Homo sapiens: one gene and its partners. The protein of the gene in region 3 purifies or fractionates together with the protein of the main gene of each other region. This does not show direct contact. Each region holds a gene or a part of one and is shown on either strand. Other genes may lie near its edges.

Region 1 (3,843 bases), on a different chromosome or scaffold from region 3:
ATGACTGGCCAAGCGGCTGGCACCCTGCGTCACCACACCTGTTACCCACATCCTCCGCAGCAGGTTCACCTGGACACAGGGCAGGGGAGATGGCACCCTTATCTCCTGGGTTCTTTCCACTCAAGATCCAAGCAGACCCATCCCTTCACTCCCCCACTGGGTGGGGGAACAACTCAAGCAAAACAGAGGAGGGGTAGCTGAGCACACTGCCCGCACAAAGGGCTTTCTTCTTCTGCCCAGGCCTCCAGAGGCCTCATCCAGCACCAACAGCTCCTCCACAGCCTGGGGCCTCCTCCCCCCTCACCTTGACCCCATACCAGGTTCCTCCAGGGATGCCATCCACTTACAGATACTTCATCCATGGGAACCTGTTACCTTGCCACCTGAACCCCAGTGATGAACCCTCCTGGGGTAACCCCCAAATGCAGAAACATTCATCGAGCCTTCTCTCCATTGCCCCGCCCCAGGGCCATCCCCAGGCATACCTGGATCCAGGGGTTATCGTCATTGCTGCTGGGTGTCCAGGCATTGACCATGCCTGCGCGGTTCAGGCGGGCCAGCTCCGGGACCCAATGCTGCAAACCCAAGAAGGTCACACGCACAGACGAGGCGGCGATCTGTGAGTTGGCAATGTTCCCATTCTCCAGGCCCAGTGGCTCGACACATTCTGAGGGAAGGGAGGTGGCAGTCAGGTGGCTACCCCAGCAGGTTCCCGGGCCCAGCTGGGACCCAGCGGACAAGAAAATAAGACTGTATGACCTCTGCCTAAGCCCCAGGGCCAGGGAGAACCTCAGAGCCTCTCTCAGAACAAAGACCACAAAGGGACAATGAAGGCAGTGCCCAGGACGAGGTGCCAAGAAAAGGTATGTGGCCAGGGGTGGTGAGGATGAGGGGGGTGGGCAGAGTCACGGGAGGCTGGGACCCAGGGCTGCCAGAGGATCCCAGCCAGGGTAGCACTGTGGGGACAGCCATGATTGGCACTCATGGAAAGTAGAGTCCCCCCCGCCAGGCTGTGGGAGGTGGCCTCGTTCATATAGGGCATCTGGCAGCAATCAGTCTGGTGCAGGGGTTAGACTGGTGGCACAGAATACCGGTGTGACCCCCTCTTCCTCAGTGTCCCCTCCCCCCACCAGGAAGGGACGCCATCCTCAGCCCAGCCCCTGGCTTCCTCAGGAGGGTGGCTTTGGGAGAAGGGCTACCTCGGATAGCAGTGAACAGTACCAGCACTGTACACAAAGAAAGAAGCTAATCTGCCTGGAGTTTTCTAGAATCCCACTGGCAGGAGTTCTCTGGGTGGGGCACAAATGCCATTCTGCTTTCCCTCTTTACGCCTTCCACCTGTGGGCCCTCACCCAGCCATCTGTGAACATGCCCGTGGCCAAGGCCCCACCCCCCTCACCATCACTCCAGCAGTGTGGTCCCAGGAACCCAGGACAGCTACCAGGCCCACCTACAGGCCAAGCTTCTCTCATCACCTGGGGATCCCCCCAGCGTGTGCCTGGGCCTTCCAGCTGCCAAGCAGAGAACCCACAGACAGATCTAGTCTTCCTCCAACATCACAGGCGCGGACGAGCTCAGTGTTAGCGCACTCTGGCAGGGAGGGGAACGCGCAAAGTGAGGCCAGAGCCTCAAGACCAGAGCTCGGCCAGTGGCTGAGCTGAGATTTGACCCCAGTCTGCCTCCAAGACTATCCCCATACCCCACCACGCTCACACCCTGAAGGAGTCCAGTGTGCATTCTTTGGGCCCGCAGGGTCCTTGTTGGCTCCAAGGAAACATACCACGTAAAAGGCAAGGAAGAGCTGCGAAGGTCCCTCTGAGGGCTTCCTCCGCTGTGTGGTCACCCCTGCCTTCTTCCTGGGTGCAGCCATATCCAGCCTGGGGAAGATCCCAGGCCCAGAAGCTAGAAGTCAAGGTGGGTAATTCCCACTCAGGCACACTCACTGTTACCTCAGCTCCCAGGATACTTGTTAGTGGCTCCACCTGGCCCTACCCAGGGCTCTGATTGCCTTAGCAACCCGTCCGCCAAACCATACACACACCCTTCCACCAGGATCTCAAACACATCTGGCCTCAGGGCAGGGTCCAAGGCACAGGCCCCAGGGCCACTTGGGAGGTAAAAGGCATCCTACTCACTTGACCTGCTCTCTCCCAGGGCCCCTGCTGCCACCCAGCTGGCTCAAGCCCCCCGCCCCCTCCTTCTGGAGGCCAGCAAACCTCAGAACCCATCCCCACATCTCCCTGAGGAGGGCAAGATGTCCCCTGTCCCCTACCCAAGATGCTCAGCGATTGACCTGCTGGATTCAGAAACCTAGGACCCCCCGCTCCACCCATCCCTGGGCCCACATGTGGGCAACCCGCCTGCCCCATGAGGAGTCCTAGTGGGGTGGGAGCACTAAGTGGGAGGGACTCCAGCTGGGCCTGGAGGGAGGACAGCAGGGGAACTGCTGTTGCCACCCCACCTAGGGCCATTCTGTGGCCGAGTGGATAACCAGGCAGGTCACACGCGGACAGCCCCTCTGGGCATGCAAGGCCTCTGACCACCTGACCGCGTGGGGATGGTTCAGCTGGCCCAGGCCTCTCCCTTCTCCCCGAGCTCTGCGATGAGGCTGCAGGTCAAACTTGGGCCAGGAACTGTCAGACTCTGAAACCAAGGCTGATTTACTGAGTTCCTGGGCCTCAAAAGACCAAGAATGTGTTTGTTTTCCCCTCTTAGGTAGAAAAATCCTTGCAACTTAACCCTAATGCTGTGTGTCTGGCTCATGGTGACTCAAGAAACAGCACTCCCGTGACCTCCAGGGTGACCACAACCCCTCACTCCTCTGCATCAGCATCAGGCCTGGCCGGCAGTCTCAGGAAAGAGGGCCAGGCAGAAAGAAGGAAGAAACAACAGGACCCTTTTCCCCCCTCGGTCTAACTGAGGCTCTGTCTCTCTCTCTGAGTCTCCCCAGAGGAGGCCTTGACACCTCCACTGGGGTGGGGATCACAGGCAGAGAATAAGGCCAGCATATGGCCTATGCCACCAGGGCTGTGGCTCAGGGTCTACTGCTAGAAACAGGCAACAAGCACCCCCACATACTCACTCGTCTCACAGTGGTTGCCCGCGTAGCCCTTAAGGCACGTGCAGGTGTACGAGGGGAAGACATCTCCTCGCACTTCTTGGGAAATCTCCTCGCATAAACCACCGTTGTGGCAGGGGTTTTTGGAACAGATATCTGGGGACAGAGACAGGTAAGATGAGCAGATGATCAGGAAGGAGCTGGGGACACAGGTGAGAAGTAGCAGATGGGTCCAGCCCAAAAGGACCCTCCACTCAAACTCGCCCATTATCTCTTCCTCTCCCTCTTCCCCCGTGTGCTGGATGGAGCCTGAGTCCGCCTAGAGCCAAGGAAGTCCATGTGTAGGCGAATCGGCCCACATAAGGGAAGCGCCCAGCTTTCCAAGTGGCCTGGGAGTGTCCAGAAAAGTGCTGGCTGACAATGGCAGTGGTGCTGGGGACCACTGCCCACTGGTGGAAGAGCTGGCAGCTGGGGTCTGGAGAGGCAGGCAAGGTCCAGGGCAGGTCTCTTGGCAGCAGTTTGATTGCAAAGGAGGCCCATGAGGACTTTCAGGCAGGGGCAGTGGAAGGAAGCATTGTTCTGGCCCATTGAGCAGGTTCCGCCCACCAATTCAGGCACAGGTTGCAGTCACAGATGTCACCTCCAATGGCAGCCCTGACTCAGGAACAGCACGATGATCATCCAGGAAACACTGGGAGGGCCAATGACCATGCTAGGCCCCCGAGACAGAGAAATCAGATGCAGCGCAGGCCTCAAGAAGCCAAGGGGAAAGAGGCCAGCAAGTC
Region 2 (4,189 bases), about 150 Mb from region 3:
AGGCTGGAGTGCAGTGGCGCAATCTCGGCTCACTGCAACCTCCACCTCCCGGATTCAAGCGATTCTCCTGCCCCAGCCTCCCCAGTAGCTGGGACTACAGGTGCGTGCCACCACGCCTGGCTAATTTTTTGTATTTTTAGTAGAGACGGGGTTTCACTGTGTTAGCCAGGATGGTCTCGAACTCCTGACCTCATGAACTGCCCGCCTCAGCCCCCCAAAGTGCTGGGATTACAGGCGTGAGCCACCGTGCCCGGCCCTGGACACACCTCTTAACACTTGCAGTACCCAGCATGGCGGGCCTGTGCACACCTCCATGCCTCTCTCCACATATGAGCTCCCACTGCCTAAAACGCTGAGTCCTCTATCCATCTGCAGAGACCTTCCTCAGCTCTGATCTCAGCTCTGCATCACCTTGAATCCCACCCCTCTGAGCCTTCACTGAGCAGACCTGTGACCCAATGCCAGTTTAGATTGGTGTGCTTCCTGTCTGCTTTTCATTCCAGACCAGGCTAGGAGCTCCCCAAGGCTGTAGCCCCGGTGCAGGGACCTGCAGCCATTTGCTGGCCGGTAGAGAGGCTGCAGGAAGCCACAGCGGCTGCCTAACCAGGCCTGCAGCACCTGGACCGAAGACCCTTTTCCATCTGAACTGTGGGAGTTAGGGGTGGCTAAGCTCAGAGACAGAGGTCTGATCAGTCTCTCCTTTCCTCGAAACTCTCCAAAAGGTCCCATACCACTGAGGAAATAGCCAAATCCTCATAGTCACAGCCCTTTTGTCCTCCCACCTCATCATCTCCTTGCCCCCTTCCTCACTCTGCTTCAGCCCCACTGGCCTCCTTGCTGTTCCCCAAGCACAGAAGACTCTCCCGCATCAGGCTTCCGGACTGTTCCCTGTTCCTTCCATGGGAATGCCTTTCCCAGACCCCTCCTAGTCACTCCCAGGCCTCTGGCAGAATGTCTACCCATCCTGTTTAAAACTTTTCCCCAATAGCTCTTGCTACCCCTGACAAACTCTTACATCTCAACTATTGTCGTTTCCTCCCCACTGCCTTAGCAACTCCTAGAGGGCAGAGATTTCATCTGCTCTGCCCACCGCTATATAGCCAGCCACTAGAACAGGCCGGAAGCGCAGAAAGAGCTAAGTAAGTATGTGTTGACTGACTGACGAACAAATGAATGAAGTGAGATGGGGGCTTTGGGGATTCGGGTTCACGCACCACCCCAAAAGCATTCGAAGGCCGGGCGAGGCCAGGCACTGCCGAGGAGGGCGGGCCGGGGGAGGAGCGTATTGGCCACGCCCGGCCACGCCCCCAGGCCGGCGGAACCCAAGGCGCGGGGACCTGCGCTGCCGGGAGGATTGAGGGAAGGGAACCCGCGCCGCCGGAAGGAGCCGCTCGCTTCACGGCGCTGGGACCCGGGCTGGAAGGCAGGGCATCAGCTATGGAACAACCTGGGCAGGATCCCACCTCAGACGACGTCATGGACTCGTTCCTGGAAAAGTTCCAGAGCCAGCCTTACCGTGGCGGCTTTCATGAGGACCAGTGGGAGAAGGTGGGCGGTCCTGGGGTCTCCCCACGTGTGTAGGGGCGTCGTCCGGACTCGTGGGGCACCCGGGCTCTGGGGCACCTCCTTCAATCCCAGATCCCTGGCGCTGCCAGCCGATCGCTGGTTTCTAGTTGAGTATTGAAAATCGGCCTCGAGGTTTTGAGTCGCTTCTTAAGCTGAGAACCTAGGTTTTGGAGTCAGGCCTGTGACTCCACCACTTAACTGGCTCTGATATGAGTCAGTTACTTAACTTCTCAGAGTCCGTTTCCTCATCTGTAAAACTGCGCGAACTATATCACCAATAGCAAAGATGAAATGAGACAGTTGGTAAAGTGCCAAGAACATAAGGGCGCTCAATTAATGGTAATTCCTGCCGCTCTTGTAGAATGTGAGAACTAAAACAATCATTAGAGACCATTACACCACACTCCCATTTTACAGAAGGGAAGCGGAGGCCTGAATGGATACAGCTAGCTGTGATGATTTGCAAATCATGATGAGTAAAAAAACTTTGGTAATGAGTCATGGAATTGGATCTGCTCAGTAGAAAAGCTTATTCATGTAGTTCATTCTTAACCATTTACAGGAATTTGAAAAGGTCCCCCTATTTATGTCGAGAGCGCCATCAGAAATTGATCCCAGGGAGAATCCTGACTTGGCTTGTCTCCAGTCAATTATTTTTGATGAGGAGCGTTCTCCAGAAGGTATCTTAACATGACTAATATTTGTTTTGTGTTTCCATTGAACTGAAATTAAGTGTGGGTTAGAAGCGTTCTGATTGATAACAAGAAGTAGTTAGCCTGAGCTAACTTGTCATTATTCATTCCAATATACTTCTTTTTGTACCTACTAAGTGGTAAGGACTGGGGATACAGGGGTGAATAAGACACAGTTCCACCCTCCAAGGTCAGGCTCAGTGAGAAGCCTTTTGTCTTAAAGAATCAAGACAAACTTATGCTATAAGTGTCAACATGTAGGTGTATACTACAGCTGTAGTGGGTCCTGTTGGAACACTTTAAGGAGCAGGAGTGGATTCACAATAGATAGGAAATTTGAGCTGAATCTTTGTAATTTTGTAGGCTTTTACTAGGGTGAGGAGGGGAATTTGCACTCCACAGAATAAACAACATAAGCAAAAGCAGAAGTATAATCAATCCCCCTGCCCCTCACTGATTTCTTCAGTGATTAAAAAAAATTCTTTTCTTCAACAGCTAGGATGAGTGTACTTTTTTCCTTTATACTTCTTTTTTTTGGAAAGCACTTAGTAATCTACCTTGTAAGATATTTGGAATTAGCATTACATTTGTGCGACTTTGTCCATGTTGATACCCACTTTTATCATAACATCGAGTTTCCTTTCCCTATTGGTTTCTTCGCTTTGGTGTGTCATATAGTACATTATTACATGATTTAGAATCTATTTTTAATGAGCCTTTTAAAAAGTAAGCAATAGTGATTATTTTTCCTCTTCTTTGCAGAACAGGCCAAGACCTATAAAGATGAGGGCAATGATTACTTTAAAGAAAAAGACTACAAGAAAGCTGTAATTTCATACACTGAAGGCTTAAAGAAGAAATGTGCAGATCCTGATTTGAATGCTGTCCTTTATACCAACCGGGCAGCAGCACAGTACTATCTGGGTAATTTATAAGTGCTTTCTGAAGAATAAACTTATGATACAAGCCATTATGATGGTTAGTGGAGGTTTGAGAACATCAGAGGATGAGGGGCTGTTATCCCAGAAACCCAGACTAAGGATAGTTTACTCTGATTGAACTCTGGTCTTCCAAGTTGACATGATGAAAAGAGAAACAGGATGGATTGTGTAATTCTTACTGTCTCAACCCAAAAAGTGACTTGGTCACTCAAGTAAGGTGTTTGATGTATGAGGCAGTATGTTCTGAGATTTTTGAGCCCAAGGGCTTCTACTCTCTCAAAAAATGTGTTTTTCTGGCCTTTTATCCTCTTTTCAAGGATGCTAGCAGGAGTAAGGCAGTAGAGATCTTTAGGTGAGATAAGCTATTTTAATCTAAGGGAGAATATCTCAAAGCGTTCTGTGGGACCTTTGAGTTAAAAATATTTTTTGGTTGGGTGCAGTGGCTCATACCTGTAATCCAAGCACTTTGGGAGGCTGAGACAGGAGGATCGCCTGAGGCCAGGAGTTCAAGACCAACCTGGGCAATATAGTGAGACCCTGTCTCTCCAAAAATTTAGCTGGGCATGGTGGTGCCTGCCTGTAGTCCTAGCTACTTGGGAGGCTGAGGCACGAGGATCGCTCAAGGCTACAGGGAGCCATAATCACACCACTGCACTCCAGCCTGGGTGACAAAGTGAGACCCTGTTTCTAAAAAGTTGCTTGGATGAGGAATTTTAACTCATTTATTTATTCATATTTTTTACTTTATTACATTTTTTTGTAGAGACAGGGTTTTGCCATGTTGCCCGGGCTGGTCTCGAAATTGGGCTCAAGTGATCCATCCGCCTCAGCCTCCCAAAGTATTGGAATTACAGGTGTGAGCCACCGCACCCAGGAGATTGAGGAAGTTTGGAAAATGCTGCTTCTTAGAGATTTACAGTACATGTTAACATGTTAAAGACACTGAGATAGCCTGCAAGAAAATAAATTTACCCTGGGTTTCTCAAATTT
Region 3 (3,500 bases):
GTCACAAAGAGCCAGTCAGGAGAAGAGCATCTGGGAGGCACTAGTACAGGGGACACACAGGTGTCTGTGACACTCAGGGCGGGCAGACAGGTCATCACCCTGCATTCTGCATGCCCACGCATACACACCATGCTCACCCCTTCTGATGAACAGGCACAAGCGTTCACACACACGCTCCTCCCCCAGGGGCTCCCAGGTTGGAACACCTCCCCTGACTGCCAGGCAAAGCCATACCTCTCTCCTGAACCCAGGGCAAAGGGCCAGGCTCACCCAGCCTGTGCCAACCAGTGAGAGAGGCCAATGGTTGGCACTGGAGCCAGTTGGGGTGCTGAGTTGAGGCCAGAGATGGGCAGCCTGTTCAGATCCCTGGGCGTTTGCCTCTGGCCAGGAGACCAAAGCCCTGTCCACATCCAATTTCCTCAGACTGGGAGTCTGGGGACCTACTTCCTAGCTCCAGTTAGGTTTGTGACCTTGAGCAAGTCACCCTCCCTCTCTGGTCCTTCGGACATTGACCGCAGTGCTCTGGGCCAGTGCTATGGGGTTTTCGAGGCTCACCCTGCTCAGCCTTCGTCTCAGGGGACCCACAAGCCAGCCTAGAAGTGTGTCTTGGAAGGAAGAGAAAACCCTTGCCCGTCACCTTTAATGAAAGACCCACAGGCAGACAAGCTTTGGGGATGTCTGAGGAAAGAGACCTGATGGGGGTCAGGAGCAGAAGCTGCCATTAGCACTGGTCCCAGCGAACTGTCCTGGGCTTCCGCAGCTTGGTCACCCACCTGGAACGAAGCTAACCCCCCCGCCCCCGGCTGCCCAGCCCAGAGACTTGTGGGGAGTATGACTCACTTCGCGGGGGGCCATTGTGGCTAATGTTTAACTCTGCCCCTCCTTCAGCAAGGCACTTTAGCCCCAGCAGCCCTTAGCGCTGGGCCCTGCCCTGATCATGCCTGCTGCTGAGTGGGCTCAGACACACAGCTGAGCTTGGCCTCCTTGCGCCGTGGGGACCGGGCACCCTGTGGGGAAAGGTGGGAGCAACAGCTGGTCTCCCAAGGGCTCTGGGACAGGCAAGAGTGTAGCAGGTGGCATCCTGCCCTGGTCATTCCTACCAAGCAGAGAGGAGCACCAGGCCCATCTCCACCAGCTGCAGAGAGAGGGGGTGCCCACCCAGCTATTGTGTGCTGATTAGTAATAGATATCCCCCAAGTAGCACCCTATCCCTCCACTCTCAGCCAGGGCCCCATGTTGGAGGAAGGCCTCACCTTAGCCCATCTGTATGTCACCTGCATCTCCTTTGAATGTTTCCCCTTTGGTGCGGGTGTGTGGGGACTCCCCAGGTGCATATGCAGGACCCTCGACCCCCAGCTGTGTCCTTCCAAGAAAGTTGGGCTCTGTTAAGGCCAGTCTGATCTCAGAAAAGGGCAACCCCAAGGCAGAGTGACCTGAGATCTAGTCTCCAGTCTGCAGCTAGCAAACCCTGTAACTTAGAGTGAGCTACTTGAACTCTCCAGGCCTCCATTTCCTCATCTGTAAATTTGAGCTAACAAATGTACCATTTTTGTGAGAATGCAATGATATAACTCAGATAAAGCATTTAACATCACATATTACTATTATTGAAATGCTGTTATTAAAATAGTCGATAAGAGTATGGATTCTAACAGACTTCTTGGGTTGAATCCTGGGACCACCACTTATTAGCTGTGTGATCATGAAAAGTCCCTAACCTCTCTGTGCCTCAGTTTTCCCCACTGTACCATGAGAATAGTAGCTGTACCTTTCTCCTAGGGTTGTTGTGAAAGTTAAATAAATTAAGGTGTACATGCTGGTGCCTGACGCATAAGTGTGCTACATGTGTGAGCTGTTACTCAGTGGCAGGCCCCAGCTCCCAGCTCTACTGGTGTTGTCTCCATGGTGAGAGAAGACTGGAGTAGAATCAGGGCTCTCCAGAGGCCAGGCCCCCAGCCCAGGCCCCATTCTTGGCTACAACAGCCCCTTCCATAGATCCCTCTCCCACCCCCAAGCTCTCCTTCCCCTTGTCCACAGGGCCTCTCAATCCTTGCGCTCCAGATATGTCTATGCCTATATTCGCCCTTGCTCCATCCTCACAGGAGATGAATTAGGTCTGTTGCTGCCTGGAAGCAGAAGGAGGAACCCGATGACCTCCAGGAACCCTCTGGTTGGCTCTTCTGCCCCTCCTAGAGGGCCACTGGCTTAGGTGTGTTGAGTGGGCCCCACCTCCTCCTCCCATGGGTCTTCTGCACCCACGTGTTTGCTTTGAGTCAGGCCCAGAGCAGGTCTCCTGCCTTTACATGACTGGGTGGATACCCCAATCTGCCAGGGCCCCAGGTTAATAGTTGACTGCAAAACTGGGATTTGACTCTGGAACTTGGGGCCAGGCTCTAGGGAAGAGCTGGAAAGAGGTGAAACAAGGAGATCGCTTTGGATCCAGGCCAACCGGAGGAGCCCTGTGAGGCGGGGAAGAGTGGGTTTCTGTGGCTGCCTGGGCATGAAGGCATGAAGCCTAACCCCATCCTCTGTGGCCTGGACCAGCCCTGTCAGGTTCTCCAACTTCGTGCATTGAGACTGGGTGTGTCCGTGCCTACGGGTTTCTGTGTGTGATTGGGGTTGTGCTTTTTGCACACATCTGCCTCTCTGCCCACTGACCTATTTATAGCAAGAACCCTGGGCAGAGTGCTGCTTCCCCTAAGGTAGCCCAAGTTGCTGGTTCCCACTGCCATGCTTTCTGAAAGGGGCTGGCAGCCCAGCAGCCCAGAGAGCCAGACCATGCCCTGGGGAGCAGCTGGCACTGCACTTTGTACCAATTTCTGGCACTTATGGAAGATAATACATGGGATTCGAAGGTAGAATGGGGACTCAGTAGGGTGGGTAGAAGGGTTGCTGCTCTGATAACTCAGCCCCTCCTAGGGCCAGTGCTAGGGTGGTCGAAAAGCCAAGGGACCCCAGGTCTGGGAACAGCCACTTCCCTTGCAGGCTTAGCTCAGAAGTCACCATCCCACTGCCCTGAAAAGTCAGAACTTGACCGGATGTGGTCGCTCACACCTGTAATCCCAGAACTTTGGGAGGCCGAGGTGGGCAGATTACGAGGTCAGGAGTTCGAGACCAGCCTGACCAACATGGTGAAACCCTGTCTCTACTAAAAATACAAAAATTAGCGGGGTGTGGTGGCACGCACCTGTAATCCCAGCTACTCAGGAGGTTGAAGCAGGAGAATCGCTTGAACCTGGGAGGCGGAGGTTGCAGTGAGTCGAGATCGCGTCACTGCACTCCAGCCTGGGTGACACAGCGAGACTCCATCTCAAAAAAAAAAAAAAAAGGAAAAAGAAAAGTCAGAACTTTGGTCTCTGCTTCACAGGAGCCACTCTAGTGAGTATGTTGGGGGAAGAGAGGCTGCCCCAGACCCCCCTTCCACCCCAGAAGGCCCTATGCTCTCACCAGGCTTTGGACCCAGGAGGTAGTGGGATGGAGAAAGGACCTGATCCAGAGGA

The links.
Region 1: the proteins of TNNI1 (region 3) and MFGE8 purify together in Homo sapiens (co-immunoprecipitation; one large-scale study listed by IntAct). This does not show direct contact.
Region 2: the proteins of TNNI1 (region 3) and TTC4 purify together in Homo sapiens (co-immunoprecipitation; one large-scale study listed by IntAct). This does not show direct contact.

What each region holds. Positions count from the first base shown.
Region 1 is NC_000015.10:88,906,710-88,910,552, forward strand, and holds part of MFGE8 (lactadherin isoform a preproprotein), read right to left. Parts: intron 3,215-3,843; coding exon 3,083-3,214; intron 668-3,082; coding exon 486-667; intron 70-485; coding exon 1-69.
Region 2 is NC_000001.11:54,714,472-54,718,660, forward strand, and holds the start of TTC4 (tetratricopeptide repeat protein 4), read left to right. Parts: upstream 1-1,389; 5' UTR 1,390-1,437; coding exon 1,438-1,548; intron 1,549-2,128; coding exon 2,129-2,246; intron 2,247-3,020; coding exon 3,021-3,182; intron 3,183-4,189.
Region 3 is NC_000001.11:201,404,731-201,408,230, forward strand, and holds part of TNNI1 (troponin I, slow skeletal muscle), read right to left. Parts: 3' UTR 1-3,500. UniProt on the Homo sapiens protein: Troponin I is the inhibitory subunit of troponin, the thin filament regulatory complex which confers calcium-sensitivity to striated muscle actomyosin ATPase activity.